Linked DNA regions of Homo sapiens: region 2 is linked to region 1. The links come from fine-mapping of genetic effects on gene expression. A gene starts in region 1. The other region holds a variant in brackets. All regions are shown on one strand. Distances are from middle to middle. Region 1 holds the start of FLYWCH2 (FLYWCH family member 2). Region 2 holds the start of FLYWCH1 (FLYWCH-type zinc finger 1).

Region 1 (11,866 bases):
AGAGCAAGACTCCATCTCAAAAAAAAAAATTCTAACTTTCAAGCAAAAATTAAAATGTTGGGGCCAGACACGGTGGCTCACGCCTGTAATCCCAGCACTTTGGGAGGCCGAGGCGGGTAGATCACCTGAGGTCAGGAGTTCAAGACCAGCCCGGCCAACATGGCAAAACCACATCTCTATTAAAAATACAAAAAATTAGCCAGGCATGGTGGTGGACACCTGTAATCCCAGCTACTCAAGAGGCTGAGGCAGGAGAATTGCTTGAACCCGGGAAGCGGAGGTTGCAGTGAGCCGAGATCACACCATTGCATTCCAGCCTGGGCAACAGAGTGAGATTCTGTCTCAAAAAAAAAAAAAAAAAGTTAGAAAACTTGTATTTGACACCATTCATTTATATTATATAATAAAATATGTCAACATTTCATAAGATGTGCATTATTCAATGAACCAATATTTTCTAAAAAGCCAATGCATGGTGTTATGAGACCACACATGGGTACAAGATCCCTCCAAAATGCTAAAAGACCAGTGGATTATTATTATTATTTTGAGACAGGGTCTCACTTTGTCACCCAGGCTGGAGTGCAGGGCTCAATCTCGGCTCACTGCTGCCTCAAGCTCCTGCGCTTGAAGGAACCTCCCACCTCAGCCTCCTAAGTAGTTGAGACTATAGGCGTGCACCACCACAGCTGACTAATATTTTTTTTTTTTTTTTGAGACGGAGTGTCATTCTGTGGCCCAGGCTGGAATGCAATGGCATGATCTTGGCTCACTGCAAACTCTGCCGTCCGGGTTGAAGTGATTCTCCTGCCTCAGCCTCCTGAGTAGCTGGGATTACAGGCACGTGCCACCACGCCTGGCTAGTTTTTGTATTTTTAGTAGAAACGGGGTTTCACCATGTTGGTCAGGCTGGTCTCGAACTCCTGACCTTGTGATCCGCCCACCTCAGCCTCCCAAGTGCTGGGATTACAGGTGTGAGACACGGCATCCGACCACACCCAACTAATTTGTAAATATTTTGTAGAGATGGGTTTTCGCCATGTTGTCCAGGCTGGTCTCAAACTCCTGGACTCAAGAAATCCACCCTCCTCAACCTCCCAAAGTACTGGGATTACACGCATAAGCCACGTCGCCTGGCTGACCAAGGGATTCTGATGTAATTGAATACAAAAATTGTACTGATGCCACTTCAGATTCTACACTGCAACTAACCTTTAAGAACCACCACATGAGTTTTGATGTAGTATCAAGGAAGACTATCCACAATTATCTGAAAAGGCTGTTAAAATATTTCTCCCTTTTCCAAATATTTATCTGTGTGGGCTGGATTTTCTTTGTGTGCTTCAATGCAAACAACACATCACAGAAGAGTGAATGCAGAGGCAGTTGTGACAATGCAGCTGTAGTCTCTTAAGCCAGACACTAAAGTGATCTATTTTTTGAGACAGGGTCTTGTCCTGTCCCCCAGGCTGGAGTGCAGTGGCATGATCTCAGCTCACTGCAACCTCTGCCCGCCGCGTTCAAGCGATTCTCCTGCCTCAGCCACGTGAGTAGCTGGGATTACAGACTCGCGCCATTAAGCCCAGCTAATTTTTGTATTTTTAGTAGAGGTGGGGTTTCACTGTGTTGGCCAGGCTGGTCTTGAACTCCTGACCTCGTGATCTGCTCACCTCAGCCTCCCAAAGTGCTGGGATTACAGGTGTGAGCCACCGCGCCGGGCCAGTGATTTTTATTATTTATTTATTTATTTATTTGAGACGGCGTCTTGCTCTGTCACCTAGGCTGGAGTGCAGTGGCGCGATCTCGGCTCACCGCAACCTCCGCCTCCTGGGTTCAAGCAATTCTCATGCCTCAGCTTTCCGGGTAGCTGGGATTACAGGTGCATGCCACCACGTCCAGCTAATTTTTGTATTTTTGATAGAGACAGGGTTTCACCATGGTGGCCAGTCTGGTCTCAAACTCCTGACCTCAGGTGCTCCATCTGCCTCGGCCTCCTAAAATGTTTGGATTACAGGCGTGAGCCACCGCGCCCAGCCACTAAAGTGATTTTTAAAAGTGTAAACACTGCCACTCACTGATTCCTTTGGTTTAAAGATATACAGTGGGTTAATTACCACTGTTTTTAATAAATCTGTTTTTAAATTTATCAGTTTAAGTTCCTTTTTTCCAAGACGGAGTCTTGCTCTGTCGCCCAGGCTGAAGTGCAGTAGCATGATCTTGGCTTACTGTAACCTGCCACCGCCACCCGCGGCTCTGGTTTAAGCAATTCTGCCTCAGCCTCTGGAGTAGCTGGGATTACAGGCACATGCCAAAACACATGGCTAATTTTTTTGTATTTCTAGTAGAGATGGGGTTTCACCATGTTGGCCAGGCTAGTCTCGAACTCCTGACCTCATGATCTGCCTGCTTCAGCCTCACAAACTGCTGGGATTACAGGCGTGAGCCACTGCACCCAGCCGTCTTGTTTTTTTTCCTCACTCTGTTGCCCAGGCTGGAGTGCAGTGGCATTGTTTTGTCTCACTGCAACCTCTGCCTCCCGGGTTCAAGCCTCCCACGTAGCTGGGATTACAGTCGCCCACGACGACCACACCCTGCTAATTTTTGTATTTTTAGTAGAGACTGGGTTTCACCATGTTGGCCAGGCTGGTCTCAAACTCCTGACCTCAGGTGATCCACCTGCCTTGGCCTCTCAAAGTGGTGGGATTACAGGCATGAGCCACTGCACCCAGCCTAAATTTCTATATAGTAAATATTGATAGATGTAACCCACATAACTAAAATCTCTCTGAGCGTCTCAATAACTAACAGTGAAAATGATGGCGGCAGGAGGCAGACAAATCCCCAGGCAGACAGAGACAGATCCCATCCCTGGTGAAACTGGCCTTCAAACCAAAGACATTTTAAAGCCTGAAAACCAAGCTACAAGTCTCTGATAAATTCATGGAACATACTGAGAACCTCTCTTCCCGTGTGGCCCACTTTCCTCTGACTGATCCCCACATTTCACCTATTTTACATACACCTACCCTTCCCTAACTGGTTGTTTACACTGTCATGCCCAATTTTGAGTGCCTTTTAAGCCTTTTTTGCATACTCAGAAACCAATCAGCATGCACTCCCCCATTCTGAGCCAATAAAAACCTCAGACTCAGCCACACTTGGGGTCTACACACCATGGCGGGGGGAACTACCCGACTTTGAGAGGGTCCCCTCTTCGCTGAGAGCTGTTTGTTAGCTCAATAAAACTCTTCACCCTGCTCACCCACTGGCTGTCAGCATAACCTCATTCTTCTTGGATGTGGGACAAGAACTCTGGAGGGTCTACCACTGGTAGGAAAAAGGCTGTAACACTGTAGCCCTCCACCCACCCCCAGAACCTGCCCAGGCAAGAGGAAATAGCAGTGGGCTGGGCCAGCCCTGAAGCTGAGGACCCAAGGGGGGCAGCGGGATTGAAAGAGCTGTAACATGACACAAATGGCGGAATGGGTGGGGTGTCTCCTGCACCGAGCCCAGGCCAAGGGAGGCCTGAACAGGGGTGCTGCTGGCCATGGAGGTCTCTGGCTGACTAAGGGGCACTGAAAAATCCTGTGTCATAAGTGGTTCTGAGACCAGAAAGTTTGAGAATTGCTGGACTAAGGAATATAAATTTTAAAACCAAGACTCACCAGGCACGGTGGCTCATGCCTGTAATCCCAACACTTTGGGAGGCCGAGATGGGTGGATCACAAGGTCAGGTGTTCAAGACCAGCCTGGACAACATAGTGAAACCCCGTCTCTGCTAAAAACACAAAAAAAATTAGCCGGGCTTAGTGGCGGGCACCTGTAATCCCAGCTACTTGGGAGGCTGAGGCAGGAGAATCACTTGAACCCAGGAGGTGGAGGTTGCAGTCAGCCGAGATCACACCACTGCACCCCAGCCTGGGCAACAAGAGTGAAACTCTGTTTCAAACAAAAACAAAAAGAAACAGAAAACAACCAAGACTCTTATCAGTCCACATGACAATACTCTGTGAATTCTCACAATGGCTGTAGGAGGTGGGTGCGTTATCACCCCCATTTATCAGGTGAAGACACTGAGGCACAGAGAGGGGATGTAATTGCTCATTCACACAGCTGGCAATTGACACAGCAGGGACTTGAACCCAAGCATCTAACCCCAAGCTTGTGCACTTCCTTGGGGACAATTTGGCTACATGTTTAAAAAGCTTTTAAAAATATTTGCCTCCTTTGACCTCTTTTAAGACTTTCAAGAAATCTTTGGCTGGGTGCGGTGGCTCACACCTGTAATCCCAGCACTTTGGGAGGCTGAGGCGGGTGGATCACGAGGTCAGGAGTTCAAGACCAGCCTGGCCAAGATGGTGAAACTCCGTCTCTACTAAAAATACAAAAAAATTAGCTGGGTGCGGTGGCAGGCGCCTGTAATCTCAGCTACTTGGGAGGCTGAGGCAGGAGAACCACTTGAACCCAGGAGGCGGAGGTTGCAGTGAGCTGAGATCGTGCTACTGCACTCCGGTCTTGCCAACAGAGTGAGACTCTGTCTCAAAAAAAAAAAATCTTTAATATCTCGACAGGCAAGGTGGCTCACATGTCTAATCCCAGCACTTTTGGAGGCCGAGGTGGGCAGATCACCGGAGGTAACTCCGGTTTGATACCAGCCTGGCCAACATGGTGAAATCCCATCTCTACAAAAATATAAAAATTAAGCATGATTACCGGTGCCTGTAATCTCAGCTACTTGGGAGGCTGAGGCGGGAAAATCGCTTGAACCCGGGAGGCGGAGGTTGCAATAAGCAGAGATCACGCCACTGCACTCCAGCCTGGGCGACAGAGCGAGACTCCATCTCAAAAAAAAAAAAAAAAAATCTTTGACATCAGAGATTCATATACAAAGATATTTATAACATCATCAAGTTAAAAACAACCAGTAGTCTGTGAATGATTAATAGATAACAGCAAATAAATGCACAAAGGTAGCTGGGCACGGTGGCTCACTCTTGTAATCCCAGCACTTTAGGAAGCCGAGGCGGGTGGATCACCTGAGGTCAGAAGTTCAATACCAGCCTGGCCAACATGGTGAAACCCGTCTCTACTAAAAGTACAAAAATTAGCCGGGCGTGGTGGCGGGCGCCCGTAATCCCGGCTACTCAGTAGGCTGAGGCATGAGAATTGCTTGAACCCGGGAGGCAGAGGTTGCAGCGAGCCGAGATCACGCCACTGCACTCCAGCCTGAGCGACAGAGCGCAATTCTCGTTTCTAAAAAAAAAAAAAAAGCACAAAGGCCTTGAATGACACCAGACAATGCCCGGGGAGATAGGATAGTGGGATGGGGGCAGCGGGAGCCTTGGTAGCGGAGTCCACGGTGGGATTCAGAGACCTGCAGAGCCAGGGCCGGGAGGGGCAGGGCAGAGGAAGGGCGTGCAGCGACGCTGGCATTCGGACGTGAGAAGGCGGAAGGTGCGGGAGGCCCCAGAGGATCTCGACCTGGACCCTGGAGCCCTGGGGCGGTGGCACATTCAGCGGCCGCTTTAGAGCGAGGGGGGCGGGGCGCGGAGCCAGGCTTAGGGGGACCAAGGTGGCCGGGGTAGTGGGGGCGACCCCGCGGGGCTGGGAGAGCCGCGGTGAGCCTAGGGGGCTGTGCGGGGGCCGCTCTGGACGCTGCAGCCAAGTGTCCCAGGAAAGCAGCGCCCAGGGCCCCACAGCTCCCTGTGCCCGGACCCAGCCCAGTCCCACTGCAGTGGGTGGCTGGAGGATGGCGAGTGTCCCGGGCACCCCTTGGGCCGGGTGAACGTGGTTGGGCACGGAGAGGGCGGGGCCCGTGGGCACGGGTGGGCCCAATGGGCCAGGGCTGGACCAATAACGAGAAAGGATGAATGGACAGGGGCTGAACTACAGAGAGAGGGCGGGACTATTGGGCGAGGGCTGGACCAATGGGCAGGGGCTAAACTAATAGACGAGGGCTGGACCAATGGCGCGGATGAGGCTGCTGCGTCGTCAAGGATGCAGAGCTTAAAGCAAGGCAGTGGCTTCCATGAGCCTAAACACCTTCCCTCCGCACGCTCGGTATCGCGACGGGGGAGAGCAAAACCTTTAAACAAATGCTCCAGTTTTCCCCGCAGAGAGCCGGAGTCAAATCCGTGAGGAAGCCCGGGGGTCGCAGTGAAGCCCAACCCACTGGTGCTGGGATAACCTCGCCCGCAACCCGGATCCAGGCCGCAGGTCCCCCGAGGCTCCGCCCCTGACGGCGACACTCAATCCCGGGTGTCCCCGCCCCCTTACTGAATTTTGGCCCCGCCTCCGCCCTCCGATTGGCCGGACGCCAGCTCTACGCCGCACGGGCAAGACGCGGAGGAGCGGCCCCAGCCAGAAGACAGGGCACCCGCGGCCTTGCTGCGCATGCTCGCGCTGTGACCCCGGCTTGAGGTAACAGCGCGAGCTGAGGCTGGGGCCCTTGGCGCGGAGGCTGAGGGACCCGCCGCGGCGCTGTCGCCGGAGAGGGAGGGCACCGCTGTCGTCGGTGAGGACGGGCCCTGGCGGGCGGGGAGGGTCCTGCGTCCTCGGCATGGACGAGTCCCCGGCCCGGCTCTCTCGGGGGTCCCGAGGGCTGCGGGTGCTGAGGAGGGGTCCGCGTCCTGGTGCTCAGGCCGCCTCCTGTGGGGTCTCCCGCGATTCCCTCTTTGCCTCTCGCCCCTCCTTCCCCACCCCCTCCAGTCCCTTGTCCAAAGCCTCAACACCCCCACACGAAGGAGGTCCGCACTCGCCCGCCGGTCCCTGGCCGTGTCCGCCGCGCCCAGCGCTGCCTTCCCGGCACCCCCCAACCCCCGCCGGCCTCGTCCCACGGTTGCAGCTCGGGAGGTCCCTGCAGGGACGGCAGCGAGTTGGAGGCGTGAGATACTGGGGCGGGGGAGACACTCGGGGCCTCAGGGTGTGGGTATTCTTGAGAGAGGAGAGAGCCGGGGAGCTGGGACCATTTGGGCGCAGCCCAGCCCGCGTTTGATGCCAATTGCATTGGGTAAAGGAGTGAAATAAAGATTCTGAGCCCTGGTGATTAGGGGAAGGAGCTGCCATGGCTGAAATTGCCATGGTGGGGAAGCTCCGCGCTGCACACCTTAGAGTAGCAGTTCTTGGCCTTCTTGGGGCAGGGGTCACTGCCGGTTTTTTAAATCTCCCTGTGAGGACGTGTACTGCACACCTTAGTGTCCCGTCATCCTGTCGGGGTCAATAACAGCCCCGCTGTGGACTGCGTGGAGCAGTAATTATTGGGGAGCAGCTGTCCATATCGTCTGGGAACTTTTGCGATGACTTCACCCTTGCCTGTCATCTATTAACAGCCCCTGATAAATTCACCACTATTTCCGTTACGCAGATGAAACCTGCTGGGAGGGTAAGGGATTTGTCCTCGCGGCTGAGGATGCCGGTGCTGGTGGACATTAGTGATGTTTCTCCCCCGTGCGTATGAAGATGATTCTGTGGGTCCACCATGAGGCACCAGGCAGGGGTCCTGTCGTCCAGAACATCGTCAGTGAGGGATTGAACCTTGTATTAGTTTCCTGTTGCTGTCCTAACAAATAAGGTGGCTTAAAGCAACACAGGCCGGGCGCGGTGGTTCACGCCTGTAATCCTAGCACTTTGGGAGGCCGAGGCAGGCAGATCACAAGGTCAGGAGATAGAGACCATTCTGACTAACATGGTGAAACCCCGTCTCTACTAAAAAAAAAAAAAAAAAAATACAAAAATTAGTCGGGGCCGGCGCGGTGGCTCACGCCTGTAATCCCAGCACTTTGGGAGGCCAAGGAGGGTGGATCACCTGAGGTCGGGAGTTCGAGACCAGCCTGACCAACATGGAGAAACCCCGTCTCAACTAAAAATACAAAATTAGCCGGGTGTGGTGGTGCACGCTTGTAATCCCAGCTACTTGGGAGGCTGAGACAGGAGAAAGGCTTGAACCCGGGAGGCAGAGGTTGCAGTGACCCAAGGTCGCGCCACTGCACTCCAGCCTGGCCGACAAGAGCGATACTCCGTCTAAAAAACAAAAACAAAAAAAAAACTCCGGGTGATTCTTAGGGATAGTGACATTGGGGAACTGCTGTTCATATGTTCATAGACTCAATTTACCTTTTTCTGAATATTTAACAACTTTATTGAGATAATTCACATACCGTGCAATTTACCCATTTAAAGTGTACATTTCGGCCGGGCGCGGTGGCTCACGCCTGTTATCCCAGCACTTTGGGAGGCCAAGGAGGGCGGATCACGAGGTCAGGAGATCGAGACCATCCTGGCTAACACGGTGAAACCCCGTCTCTACTAAAAATACAAAAAATTAGCCAGGCGTGGTGGCAGGCGCCTGTAGTCCCAGCTACTCCGGAGGCTGAGGCAGGAGAATGGCGTGAACCCGGGAGGCGGAGCTTGCAGTGAGATCACGCCACTGCACTCCAGCCTGGGCGACAGAGCGAGACTCCGTCTCAAAAAAACAAAACAAAACAAAAAAAAAAATATACAGTTCAGTGGCTTTAGTGTGATCACAAAGTTGTGCAACCCTCATGAAAATTCCTTTTAGGACATTTTCATCACCCCATAAAGCACATACCCACTAGTAGTCAATTCTCATTCTCCCCTTCCCCACCCCAATCCCGAGATAACCACAAATCTACGTTCTGTCTCCATAGATTTTCCTACTCTGTAGATTCTCTAGACTCTAAGTAATTTCATGTAAATGGAATCATATAATATGTGGTCTTTTGGGTCTGGCTTCTTTTACCGAGCATAATTTCTTCAAGGTTCATTCATGTTGTAGCATAGATTTTTTTTACTGCCAAATAATATTCCATTTTATACATGCACCACATTGTACTTATTCATTCATCCATTGATGGATATTTGGGCTGTTTTGAATATCCATCGAAACGTTTTGGCTTTCATGAATAATGCAACTGTAACATTCATGTACACATTTTTATGTGGACATGTGTTTTCCTTTCTTCCAGGCATATAGCTAGTAGTGGAATTGCTGGGTCATAGGGTAACTCTACATTTAACCTTTTGAGGAACTGCCAGGCTGGTTTCCAAAAATGGCTGCACCATTTTACATTCCCCTCAGCAGTGTATGAGGGTTCCAGTTTCTCCTCATCCTCACCAGCACTTGCTATTATCTGTTTTTTGTTTGTTTTATTATGTCCATCCTGGTGGTGTGAAGTGATATCTCATTGTGGTTTTGATTTGCATTTCCCTGGTGACTAATGATGTTGAGCATCTTCTCATATATTAGCCATTTGTATATCTTCTTTAGAGAAAAGCCTGTTTGGAGCCTTTGCCCATTATTATTATTATTGTTATTATTTTTTTTTTTTAGACGGAGTACCACTTTGATGCCCAGGCTGCAGTGCAGTGTAGTGCAGTGGCGCCACCTCGGCTCACTGAAATCTCCACCTCCCGGGTTCAAGCAATTCTCATGCTGCGCAGCCTCCTGAGTAGCTGGGATTACAGGCATGTGCCACCATGCCACCAATCCAAAAAAGAAAATAATTTTTGTATTTTTAGTAGAGACAGGGTTTCACTATGTTGTCTAGGCTGATCTCGAACTCCTGACCTCAGGTGATCCTCCTGCCTCAGCCTCCCTAAGTGCTGGGATTACAGGCATGAGCCACCACGCCCTGCCCCTTTGTCCTTTTTTTTTTTTTTTTTTTTTTTGAGGCGGATTTTGCTCTTGTTGTCCCGGCTGGAGTGCACTGGTGCAATCTCAGCTTACCGCAACCTCCGCCTCCTGGGTTCAAGCAATTCTCCTGTCTCAGCCTCCTGAGTAGCTGGGATTACAGGCATGTGCCACCAAGCTTGGCTAATTTTGTATTTTTAGTAGAGACAGGGTTTCTCCATGTTGGTCAGGCTGGTCTCGAACTCCCGACCTCAGATGATCCACCTGCCTCGGCCTCCCAAAGTGCTGGGATTACAGGTGTGAGCCACCATGCCCAGCCGCCCATTTTTAAATTGTTTGTTTGTTTGCTTGTTTATTACTGAGTTGTAATAGTTCTTTATAAATTCCAGATACAAGTCCCTTATCAGATATATGATTTGCAAACATTTTTTCCCATTCTATGGGTTATCTCTTAACTTTCAAAAGTTTTATGGCTAAAACACAAAACTCTTAAACTTAGTTGAAGTCCAGTTTATTTCTTCATTGGTTGTTTGTGCCTTTCATTATATTGAAGAAAGCTTTGCCTAATCTAAGGTTATGAGAATTTAGTTTTTCTTTTAAAAAAAAGTTTTATTACTGTAGCTCTTGTAATAAACTATAATTTTTTGTTTTTTTGTTGTTTTGAGACAGGATCTCACTCTGTTACCCAAGCTGGAGTGCAGTGGTGCAATCTCGGCTCACTGCAACCTCCGCCCCACTGGCTTAAGCAATCCTTCCACCTCAGCTTCCCAAGTAGCTGGGACCACGGGTGCACACCACCATGCCCGGCTTTCTTTTTTTTTTTTTTTTTTTGTATTTTTAGTAGAGATGAGGTCTCGCCATGTTGCCCAGGCTAGACCTGAACTCCCGAGCTGAAGAGATCTGCCCACCTCAGCCTCCCAAAGTGCTAGGTTTATAGGCATGAGCCACCATGCCTAGCCATATAATTTATTTAGAGTTAATTTTTGTATATGCTGTGAGGAAAGCATACAACTTCATTCTTTTGTATTGGATATTCAGTGGTCCTAGCATTTAATGTTTGTTTTTATTATTATTATTATTATTTTTTGAGACAGAGTCTTGCTCTGTCACCCAGGCTGAGGTACAGCAGCACAATCACAGCTTACTGCAGCCTTGACCTCCCAGGCTCAAGCAACGCTCCCACCTCAGCCTCCCAAGTTGCTGGAACTACATATGTGCCCCACCACCCTGGTTAATAATATTTTTTTTAGAGATGAGATCTCACTATGTTGCCTAGGCTGGTCTGGAACTCCTGGGTTCAAGCGATCCTCCTACATCACCCTCCCAAAGTACTGGAATTACAAGCATGAGCCACCACGCCTGGCCCAACATTTGTCGTTAAGACTATTTTCCCTCCACAGAACTGTCTTGCCACCTTTGCTGAAAATCAGTTCACCATATATATAAGAGTGTATTTCTGGACTCTCAGTTCTATTCTGTTGATCTCTGTGTCTGTGTTTTGTTTGTTTGTTTGTTTGTTTTTTAAGAGGTGGAGTCTCGCTCTGTTGCCCAGGCTGGAGTGTAGTGGCGTGATCTCGGCTCACTGCAACCTCCGCCTCCCGGGTTCTAGCAATTCTCCTGCCTCAGCCTTCCGAGTAGCTGTGACTATAGTTGCATGCCGCCACACTCGGCTAATTTTTTGTATTTTTAGTAGAGACGGGGTTTCACCATGTTGCTTATGCTGGTCTCAAACTCCTGAGTTCAGGCAATCCACCCACCTTGGCCTCCCAAAGTGCTGGGATTACAGGCATGAGCCACTGTGCCCGGCCTGTGTCGGTCTTTATGCCAGTACCACATTGTATTGATTACTGTAGCTTTGTGATAATATATTTTGAGATAGAGATGTGTCAGTCCTGCAAGTTTTTTTTTTTTCAAGATTGTTTTTGCTATTCTGGGTTCCTTGAATTTTCATATGAATTTTAGGACCAGCTTGTCAGTTTCTCCAAAAAAAAAAAAAAAAAAAGCCAGCTGGAATTAAGAATCTATAGATCAATGTCAGAAGTGTTGTCATCTTAACAATATCAAGTCTTCCAATCCATGAACATGGGATGTCTTTCCATTTGTTTAGGGCTTCTTTAATTTCTTTCAACAATGTCATGATCTTCTTGGGGAACCTGAAGCCCAGTAGGTGCTCCAGTCCTGTGGGCTGACCAGCTTGACCAGCTAAGCCTCTTATCC
Region 2 (11,288 bases), 25 kb after region 1:
AACCCTGTCTCTACTAAAAAATACAAAAAATTGGCCAGGCGTGGCAGTGGGCATCTGTAATCTCATCTACTCGGGAGGCTGAGGCAGGAGAATCACTTGAACCCAGGAGGTGGAGGTTGCAGTAAGCCGAGATCATGCCATTGCACTCCAGCCTGGGCGACAGAGCGAGACCCCATCTCAAAAAAAAAAAAATGCAATTATGGATATCCATTCACATTTTAAATCCAAACACAAATTTTAAAACATTAATTTTTTAAATTAAATTGAAAATTTTAAAAATTCTGCCACTTTCTTGCTCCTTCACTTCTTGGGGACTTTGATGTACAGGCCCAAGCAGGGTTCCCGGGATCTAGTGGTAAACAGGTCACAACCCATCCCCCGCAGAGCCACAGAGGAAACATAGAAATCCCTGACTGATGAGTCTATGAACCTGAGGCTAAGGGCCACCGAGGAGTCTGGGTGCCGCGGGGTGTATGACAGAGGCCAACCCAGTGGGGGCCAGCCTGGGCAACATAGTGAGACACTGACTCTACAAAAAAATACAAAAATTAGCTAGGTGTGGTGGTGCGTGCCTGTAGTCCCAGCTACTGGGGAAGCTGAGCCAGGAGGATCACCTGAGCTCACCTATAGTCCAGCTACTCAAGAGGCTGAGGCTGGAGGATTGCCTGAGCCCAGGAAGTCAAGGCTGCAGTCAGCCATGATGGCACCACTGAGCTCCAGAGTGGGTGACATGATGAGACCCTGTCTAAAAAAATGTATATAAAGTGGATTTTTGTAGGAGGGGGTTGCAATAGCAGCTTACTTAGTTCACTCCATGCATCGACCTGGTATTGCAGTAGCTCCAAGAACGGTGCCCCCCGCCCATGTGTGTGGTTGCTGAGTGTAGATGTCATTAATTTTAATTTTGAAAAGGGGACAAAAATTACAAATTACCTCCAGTAATTCCACTACTTAGAGGTAAATTTTAAAAAATATATGTGTGTGTGTGTGTATATAATATATATACTCTGGCTATATATATATTTATATTTATACATATTTATATATATTTATATATATTTATTTATATATTTATATATATTTATTTATATATTTATATATATTTATATTTATATATTTGTATATATAAACTCTGGCTATATATATATATTTAGCCAGAGTTTCACTCTTGTTGCCCAGGCTGGAGTCCAGTGGTGCGATCTTGGCTCACTACAAACTCTGCCTCCTGGGTCCAAGTGATTCTCCTGCCTCAGTCTCTCCAGTAGCTGGGATTACATGCATGCACCACCACACCTGGCTAATTTTTTATTTTTAATAGAGACAGGGTTTCTCCATGTTGGTCAGGCTGGTCTCGAATTCCCGACCTCAGGTGATCCACCCGCCTCAGACTCCCAAAGTGCTACGATTACAGGCGTGAGCCACCGCGCCCGGCCAAAAAATATATATTTTTAAAATTTTTTTATTTTCAGAAAATCAAGGTGATGCCACACATTTGTTGTTGAGACAGAGTCTCGCTCTGCCGTCCAGGCTGGAGTGCAGTGGGGAGATCTCGGCTCACTGCAACCTCCGCCTCCCGGGTTCAAGTGATTCTCCTGACTCAGCCTCCCGAGTAGGTGGGAATACAGGCGCGCGCTAGCGTGCCTGGCTAATTTTTGTATTTTTAAGTAGAGACGGGGTTTCGCCATGTTGGCCAGGCTGGTCTTGAACTCCTCACCTCAAGTCATCCTCCCGCCTCGGCCTCCTAAAGTACTGGGATTACAGGCATGAGCCACCGTGCCTGGCCCACATATGTTTTTTCATAATGTGTTACAAATGTCTTCCTTCTTATGAATGCTGCACAACATTCTTTTTGCTGCTTGATGCCCACTGCAGGGATGCGTGAAATCCACTAGCTCCAGTGGCCAGACACATCCCGGTTGCCTCCAGGTTGTAAGCAATCCTGAAATAGCCTCGTATGTTCCTAGGACAGAGTTCTAGAAGTGAGATTGCCGAACTGGAAGAATGCAAGTTACATTCAACCCACGTCCTGCGAATGCCGATCTCTCCGGCATTTGTCAACACCTGGTTTTATCATCAAGAAGAAAACAGTAATAACGCGTCCTCCGCTTGGCCCTAGCGTGCACAGCCTCTGCGCTTTTCACCTCGAGGTCTCATTTTCCTTGGACAGCACCGAGCGCTGGGCAGGGCCTCATCCGGGTTCAGGGCCGGAATCTGGAGACGTTCTGGCCGATGCTCCTGACGGCCGGGAGAGGGCGCGCGCGGACTCAGCGGCGGCCCAGCAGCCTCCCCAGGACCCAGGCAGTGCTGGCAGCCAGGAGTGCGGTTCCGCCCCGCAGCCTCAGTCCCGCTCCGCCCACCCGCCTGACCCCCACCCGGGCTCCTTACGGCCCAGACACCGGCTCTAAGGTGGCTTCTGCAGGGATGGGAGGTGGGCGACTGGGAGGGGTGGAGGGGGCCTGTGTGTTGACCCTGCGGGTGGCAGCCGTTGGGAAATTGCAATGGCGTCCACACTGTCGCTGCCCAGGGCGCGAGCCGCAGCCTCTCCTCCCGTCTCGCTTCCTCCGACAGGCGCCCGACTCGGACACACGGCGCCCCTGTGGTTACCACATCCACTGCTTTTTGGTCTCCTCACCCAACCCCTTAACATAAACTCGACACCAGGGAAGGCATCTTGGACGATTTTGGTCCCTGAGGGTCCTAGTGCGAAGGGCAGGGAGAGAGGGAGCGGTGTGGTGCAGGGGGATACAGAACGCGGAGGACATCTAGGGGCTGAGGATGCGGGGACGAGGAGCGCGCGGAAGAGCCGAGGTTCCGGGGTTGGGGGGTGCGGATTTCAGAGGAACCGCCGGGGATGTGGACGGACTCGGAAGGAAGGGGTCCCAGAGAGGACGCGGGCGGCTGCAGGACACAAGAGGTGCGGGACGCAGGAGGCCGTGGGGTCGTGCGGGAGCCCAGGGCACCTCGACATGGACCCGCCAGACCTGTGGCTCCTCCAGCGGCCGCTTTAGAGCGAGAGGAGGTGCGCAGGCCGTGAGGCGGGTCTCCCTGGGGTCTCCCAGGGAGGAGCGGCGCCCTCCCCGAGCCAGCCGAGGACGCGCAGCCAGAGGGGGGTCGGGCGGAGAGAAGAGTGCGGGCGGACCGGGACGACCCCTGGGTGATAGGAGAGCCGCAGTGAGCCCAGGGCACGGTGCTGGGGCCGCTCTGGCCGCCGCCGCCAAGCGTCACAGGAAAACAGCAACCAGGACCCCGCGGCTCCTGGCGCTTGGACTCAGCCCGGTACCGCACCGCGTTGCTGGAGAATGTGTCCTTGGCGCGCGCTGAGCCAGGAAGGGACAGCGGGAAGGGCGGGGCCCGTGGGCAGGGGAGGGACCAGTGGGCGGGGACCGAATCAATTCGCTAGCGGTGAGCCAGTGGTCGAGGGCTAAACCAATGGGCAAGGCGTGGACCAATGGGCGAGTGCTGGACATCAATGAATGGGGCCTGAACTAATGGGCGGGGTGGGGCCAAGGGGCGGAGCTGAGCCAATAGAAGGGAGCGGAACCAATGGGTGGGGCTGAACCAATGGGCGGGGCGGGGCCAATGGGCTAGGGCTGGGCCGGGGCGGGGCCAATGGGCTAGGGCTGGGCCGGGGCTGGGCCAATGGGCGGGGCTGGACCAATGGGCGGGCCGGGCCAAGGGCGGGCACTAAGCCGACGGAAGGGGTGGAACAAAAGGGCGGGGATGGACCAATGGGCGAGGGATGGGCTGGGCCAATGGGCGTGGCTAGACCAATGGGCGAGCGAAGGGCCAATGGGCAGGGCGGGGCCAAAGGACGGGGTCTGAGCCAATGGAAGGGGGCGGTACCAATGGG[C/T]GGGGCTGAACCAATGGATGGGTTGGACCAATGGCAAGGGCTGGACTAATGGACGAGGGATGGGCCGGGGCTGGACCAATGGGCGAGGGCTGGACCAATGGCCACGGGCTGGGCGGTGGCTGGGCCAATGGGAAAAGGAGGATTTCACCTCGTGGAATGCTCAGGGGATGAAGGGAGTATTCCTTTATCTAGCTTCTACTTTGACATAATTTCTCACCTACAGAAAAGTTGCAAGAATCCCAAAAGGAGGTTGACTGGGGTGGCTCACGTCTGTTTCCCAATGCTTTGGGAGGCCAAGGAGAGAGAATCGCTTGAGCTCAGGAGTTTGAGACCAGCCTGGGGAACATAGGGAGACCACGTCTCTAGTAAAAATTAAAATTAAGACCGGGAGGGGTGGCTTACGTCTGTAATCTCAGCACTTTCGGAGGCCAAGGTGGGTGGATCACCTGAGGTCGGAAGTTAGAGAGCAGCCTGACCAACATGGAGAAACTCAGACTCTACTAAAAATCCAAAACTAGCCGGGCGTGGTGGCGCATGCCTGTAATCCCAGCTACTCAGGAGGCTGAGGCAGGAGAATCACTTGAATCCGGGAGGCAGAGTGCAGGGACCAGCCCCACAGGGTCTGTGGGTCTCTCCCCGTGTGCGGCGATGAGAGAGTGTAGAAATAAAGACACAAGACAAAGAGATAAAAGAAAAGACAGCTGGGCCCGGGGGACGACTACCACCAATGTGCGGAGACCGGTAGCGGCCCCGAATGTCTGGCTGCACTGTTATTTACTGGATGCAAGCAAAAGGGGCAGGGTAAAGAGTGTGAGTCATCTCCAATGATAGGTAACGTCACGTGGGTCATGTGTCCACTGGACAGGGGGCCCTTCCCTGCCTGGCAGCCGAGGCAGAGAGAGAGAGGAGACAAAGAGAAAGACAGCTTACACCATTATTTCTGCATATCAGAGACTTTCAGTACTTTCACTAATTTTCTACTGCTATCTAGAAGGCAGAGCCAGGTGTACAGGATGGAACATGAAGGCAGACTAGGAGCATGACCACTGAAGCACAGCATCACAGGGAGACGGTTAGGTCTCCGGATAACTGTGGGCAAGCCTGACTGATGTCAGGCCCTCCACAAGAGGTGGAGGAGCAGAGTCTTCTCTAAACTCCCCCGGGGAAAGGGAGACCCCCCCCCCCTTTCCTGGTCTGCTAAGTAGCGGGTGTTGTTCCTTGACACTTTTCGCTACAGCTAGACCATGGTCCCCCTGGCAACGGGTGTCTTCCCAGACGCTGGCGTCACCGCTAGACCAAGGAGCCCTCTGGTGGCCCTGTCCGGGCATAACAGAAGGCTCGCACTCTTGTCTTCTGGTCACACCTCACTGTGTCCCCTCAGCTCCTATTATGGTATGAGGCCACCACTTCTCCTGTTGTCCTTCCCAGTTTCTCCCCAACCTCCCCTTTTCCCTAGTTTATAAGACAGGAGAAAAGAGAGAAAGCAAAAAGTTGGAAAGAAACAGAAGTAAGATAAATAGCTAGACGACCTTGGCGCCACCACCCGGCCCTGGTGGCTAAAATAATAATATTATTATTAACCCCTGACCAAAACTACTGGTGTTATCTGTAAATTCCAGACATTGTATGAGAAAGCACTATAAAACTTTTTGTTCTGTTAACTGATGTTTGTAGCCCCCAGTCACGTTCCTCATGCTTACTTGATCTATTACGACTTTTTCACGTAGACCCCTTAGAGTTGTAAGCCCTTAAAAGGGCTAGGAATTTCTTTTTCAGGGAGCTCGGCTCTTAAGACACGAGTCTGCTGACGCTCCCGGCCGAATAAAAAAACCTCTTCCTTCTTTAATCCGGTGTCTGAGGAGTTTTGTCTGCGACTCGTCCTGCTACACTATCTCTGTATGGCCTGGTTTTTCCTAGGTTATGATTATAGAGCGGGGATTATTATAATATTGGGATAAAGAGTAATTACTACAAACTAATGATTAATGATATTCATATATAATCATGTCTAAGATCTATATCTGGTATAACTATTCTTGTTTTATATTTTATTATACTGGAACAGCTTGTGTCCTCAGTCTCTTGCCTCGGCGCCTGGGTGGCTTGCCGCCCACAGCAGAAGTTGCAGTGAGCTGACATCGCGCCATTGCACTCCAGCCTAGGCAAGAAGAGCGAAACTCCGTCTCAAAAAAAAAAAAAAAAATTTAAAAAATTAAAAAATTAGCCGGGGTGGTGGTGCGCACCTGTAATCCCAGCTACTCGGGAGCCTAAGGCGGAAGAATCGCTTGAACCCGGAGGCAGATTTGCAGCGAGCCGAGATCGCACCATTGCACTCCAGCCTGGGCAACAGAGCGAGAGTCCCCCTCAAAATAATTATAATAATAATAATTGCGGCCGGGCGTGGTGGCTCACGCCTGTAATCCCAGAACTTTGGGAGGCCGAGGCAGGCAGATCACAAGGTCAGGAGATTGAGACCAACCTGGCTAACACGGTGAAACCCTGTCTCTACTAAAAATACAAAAAATTAGCCGGACTTGGTGGCGGGCGCCTGTAGGCCCAGCTACTCGGGAGGCTGAGGCAGGAGAATGGCGTGAACCCGGGAGATAGAGATTGCAGTGAGCCGAGATCACACCACTGCACTCCAGCCTGGGCAACAGAGCAAGACTCCGTCTCAAAAAAAAAAAAAAAAAATTGCGGTGGTCTCAACGATGTAAAATTAAAGGTAGTGATTCATTTTCACAAAGATTGACAAGAAAGATGACAACTGGAAACTCAAAAGACCCAGAGTAGGCAAAAGAATATTGAAAAGGAATAACAGGCAGGACGCAGTGGTTCATGCCTGTAATCCTAGCACTTTGGGAGGTCAAGAGGGCAGATCACCTGAGGTCAGGAGTTCGAGACCAGCCTCGCCAACATGGTGAAACCCTGTCTCTACTAAAAATACAAAAATTTAGCCGGACGTGGTGGTGGGTGCCTGTAATCCCAGCTACTTGGGACCCTGGGGCAGGAGAATCACTTGAGCCCGGGAGGTAGAGATGGCAGTGAGCCAAGATCGCACCATTGCACTCTAGCCTGGGCAAGAAGAGCAAGACTCCGTTTCTAAATAAATAAATAAGTAATAGATACATCAATGGAATAGAATCAAGAATCCAGAAACAAACCACATTTATGATCAATTGGTTGTCAACAAGGGTGCCAAAGGTAGGGCGTGGTGGTTAGCACTTTGGGAGGCTGCGGCGGGTGAATAACTTGAGCCTAGGAATGTAAGACCAGCCTGGGCAGGATAGGGAAACCCCGTCTCCACAAAAAAAAAAAAAAAAAAAAAAAAATTAGCCGGGTGCGGTGGTGTGCACCTGTAGTGCCAGGTACTTGGGAGGCTGAGGCAAGAGGATCAATGGAACCCAAGAGTTTGATGGAAGCTGCAGTGAACTGTGATCTCACCACTGCACTCCAACCTGGACGACTGAGGGAGATTCTGTCTCAAAAACTAAACAAAACAAACGAAGAAACAAAAACAGCATCCTGGCCGGGCATGGTGGCTCATGCCTGTAATCCCAGCACTTTGGGAGGCCAAGTCGGGCAGATCACCTGAGGTCAGGAGTTTGAAATCAGCCTGGACAACGTGGTGAAACCCCGTCTCTCCTAAAAATACAAAAATCAGCCGGGCATGGTGGCGCACGCATGTAGTCCTAGCTATTGGGGAAGCTGAGGCGGACAATCTCTTGAACCGGAAAGCAAAGGTTGCAGTGAGCCAAGATAGCGCCATTGCACTCCAGCCTGGGCATCGCAGTCAGACTCCTCTCAAAAAAAGCTGGAGGGGCTGGGCGTGGTGGCTCACGCCCGTAATCTCAGCACTTTGGGAGGCCGAGGCGGGCGGATCACAAGGTCAGGAGATCGAGACCACGGTGAAACCCCGTCTCTACTAAAAATACAAAAAATTAGCTGGGCGCAGTGGCAGGCGCCTGTAGTCCCAGCTACTCGGGAGGCTGAGGCAGGAGAATGGCGTGAACCCGAAAGGCGGAGCTTGCAGTGAGCCGAGATGGCGCCACTGCACTCCAGCCTGGGCGACAGAGCGAGACTCCGTCTCAAAAAAGAAAAAAAAAAAAAAAAAGCCGGGCGTGGTGGCAACTGTCTGTAATAATCCCAATCCCAGCTGCTCAGGAGGCTGAGGCAGGAGAATCACTTGAACCCGGGAGATGGAGGTTGCAGTGAGCTGAGGTCGTGCCACTGCACTCCAGCCTGGGCGACAGAGCAAGACTCCATCTCAAGAAAAAAAAAAAGTAATTAAGTTCTGCTACTATTTTATTTTTGAACAGGGTCTTGCTCTGTCGCCCAGCCTGGAGTGCAGTGGCATGAGCGCAGCTCACTGCAGCCTCCAGCTCCCAAGCTCAAGTGATCCTTCCACCTCAGCCTCCTGAGTAGCTGGGACTACAGCGCATCACCACATCCAGCTAATTTTCTCTTGTTCCTCTTTTCTTTTTTTCTGTAGAGAAAGAGTCTCACTATGTTGCCTAGGCTGATCTCAAACTCCTGGGCTCAAACGATGCTCCTGTCTCAGCCTCCCAAAGTGCTGGGATTACAAGCAAGAGTCACTGTACCCGGCCAACATGGATGAACTTTGAAAGTGCTATGCTAAGGCTAGGCGAAAGAAGTCAGTCACAAGAGACCACATATTTGTTGCATGATTTCATTTATATGAAATATGCAGAATACGCAAATCTATAAAGACAGAAAATAGATCATATTACTTAGGGCTGGGGTGATTAGCAAATTGGAGGGTGGTGGCTAAAGGTTTCTTCTTGGAGTGATGAAAGGTTTTAAAACTGACTATGGTGCTGTTTGCACAACTCTCTGACTATACTACATATCATTTAATTGTACACTTTAAATGGGAGAAATGCATGGTATGTGAATTATATTTCAATAAAGATCTTACCAAAAAATAGTAAGCTGATTGTGTTAACATAGTTTTATGAAAAAGTACAATATTTTCCCAAAGAAATTTAGTGAGACGAGTGACATAGTTATACATTTTTGCAAATATCTTTGTTGCGGGCTTAAAAGAAGACTACTGGCTCTCATACCTGCTTCTACATTCAATGTGTTACATCACACGTCATGCAGACTTTGTAATACTATGTAATATTTCTGCTTTTTTTTTTTTAGACACAGTCTCACTCTGTCGCCCAGGCTGGAGTGCAGTGGCGCCGTCTCGGCTCACTGCAACCTCCGCCTCCCGGGTTCAAGTTATTCTCCTGCCTCAGCCTCCCGAGTAGCTGGGATTACAGGCGCCCAGTACCACGCCCGACTAATGTTCGTATTTTTAGTAGAAACGGGGTTTCACCATGTTGGCCACGCTGTTCTCGAACTCCTGACCTCAGGTGATCCACCCGCCTCGGCCTCCCAAAGTGCTGGGATTACAGGCGTGAGCCACCGCGCCCGGCCCAGGTATTTTTTTGTCGTTGTTGGCTTTCTGATGTAAGAAACAACTGTCCCTTCTCCCCCGTTGACTTATTTCCTTCAGTTTGGACTCATATCGTAGTCAAGGTTATAATCCGTTGCTATCGCTGTTTATTTGAATCTCACACTGGTTCCGCTCTGGGGTAGGGTCACTGGGGGCGTCAATGAGATGCATGAGAATCGCCTTCCCACGGGGTCAGGAAACTGACAGGCCCAAGAGTGCATCTCAGCAAACGCTCCGTTTCCTGCGGGCAGCCTCAGATACTGGGGACCGTCCTGGGGTCTCAATTAAGCGCCCCCTACCCCAGCCCCTTTACGCCAAGAGCGTCCTGTTCAGCTCCCCCATCCTAGCTCCGCCCCTGGACGCCGCCGTCCAATCTCGGGATGGCCCCGCCTTTTCCGTGAGTTACGTCCCCGCCCCCATGCGCTGACAGGCCAGGCCTGCGGCTCGGCGCCGCGCAGGGAAGACCCGGAGCAGCGGTTTACCTAAGGAACGGGCCGCGCGGTCTTGCTGCGCATGCTCTGAAGTAGCGCGCCTGAGCGTTCCGCAAGGCCGGCTCCCCGGCGGGGTCGCGCGCGCGGTCACGGGGCTCGCTCCCGAGGGGCAGGTCGGGGCTGGGAGCTGGTGCCCGGGTCGGGGTGGCGGCGGCGGCCTGGGTCGCGGGGTCGACGCTCGCTGCTGCAGCGGCAGAGGCTGAAGGATCCGCCGCGGCGCTGTCGCGGGAGAGGGAGGGCCCCGCTGCCGTCGGTGAGGACAGGCCCCTGCGGGCGGGGAATGTCCCGCGTCCCCGGCGTGGACGCGCCCGCAGCCCGGCTCTCCCGGGGGTCCCGAGGGTTGCGGGTGCTGGGGAGGGGTCTGCGTCCCGGCGCTCAGGCCGCCTCCTGTGGGGTCTCCCGCGATTCCCTCCTTGCTCCTCGCCCCTCCATCCCCACCCCCCCGTCCCCTGGCCTAAGCCCGACACCCCCACATCAAGGATCCCCGCACTCGTCCGCCGTTTCCTGGCGGTGTCTGCCCCGCCCAGCGCTGCCTTCCTGGACCCGCAGCATCAGCCCCGTCCCACGGTTGCAGCTCGGGCGGTCCCAGTGACCTTGCACTTTTGCGGGTCGGGACGCACCCCGCTCCCGCTTCTGACCCTATAGATCTCCGGTGACGGCTTTCGAACTTTGTTGACCCACAGCCGACACTGAGAAATGCCTTTTACGCGTGTACTCTGTGCCTGTGGGTCTGGATGACTGAAGCACAAGTTTAAAGGGAGACGCTTGTTTAAGCTCACATGACGCAGCTGGATCTGTTCGGATTAAATTCCGTTCCATTCTCTTCCACCCCGTTCCAAAAGGCTGCTGCTAACCCATGGAGCCTGCACATAACGGGTCTGACGTAGTTGAAACCCTCGCTCTAAACCCTGCCTGTTGTTCCTTTATTCCTTGTACTGGAAGCTGAACTCCCATAGTCAGATAATCATGTGCAAACTCCAATTCCAACGAAATGGCTTATTTTTATTTGCATATTTCTGCTTTCCAAGGGCCAATATGATTTCCAGGGCTTGATCTAGATTTTCTCGTGTGATTATATCATGTTTCTCTTGTTCCTTTCCCAAGTGCTACTGGCGGGACGTGTGGAAGGAACAAGGCTGAGGTTGGGGCTAGATTGCGGAGTGTTTATGACGCCCAGCTGATGATGCACTAAGGCTGGAGATGGAGATGATTTAATTGGGGAGAGACATGCTGAAAGTTAAGCTTTAGGAAGAGTGACCTGTCAGCACCCTATGTGGAGAATTGGAGTGGCTGCTTGCCAAAGCTGGCAAGATCGTTCAGAGGCTTTGGCTTGGGCTAAAGAGGTCGTGGTAAGGGATCATGTCCTGAGTTGGTGGGAGTGGGAAGGAGAGGGAAGATGGGTATATCAGGCATAGAGGGAGAGAGATTTGAGGATGCATTAGGCTGTGGGAAGGAGTAAATAAACTTATATTATGATGGAGGG

What was found. PIP is the estimated chance that this variant, and not a neighbour inherited with it, causes the effect.
Region 2: its variant is fine-mapped to the expression of FLYWCH2 in whole blood (INTERVAL, PIP 0.92).

What each region holds. Positions count from the first base shown.
Region 1 is chr16:2,876,853-2,888,718 of GRCh38, forward strand. It overlaps FLYWCH2 (FLYWCH family member 2), which reads left to right and starts at 6,363. Exons shown (of 4, transcript NM_138439.3): 1 at 6,363-6,514. RefSeq lists an enhancer at 5,280-5,780 and silencers at 5,509-5,978, 6,479-6,648, 6,739-6,798.
Region 2 is chr16:2,902,097-2,913,384 of GRCh38, forward strand. FLYWCH1 (FLYWCH-type zinc finger 1) reads left to right here and starts at 9,835. Exons shown (of 10, transcript NM_001308068.2): 1 at 9,835-10,058. RefSeq lists silencers at 2,243-2,472, 3,143-3,962, 5,129-5,198, 9,586-9,645, 9,696-10,005 and 3 more and an enhancer at 3,028-3,528. The variant C/T (reference allele first, on the strand shown) is at 3,851.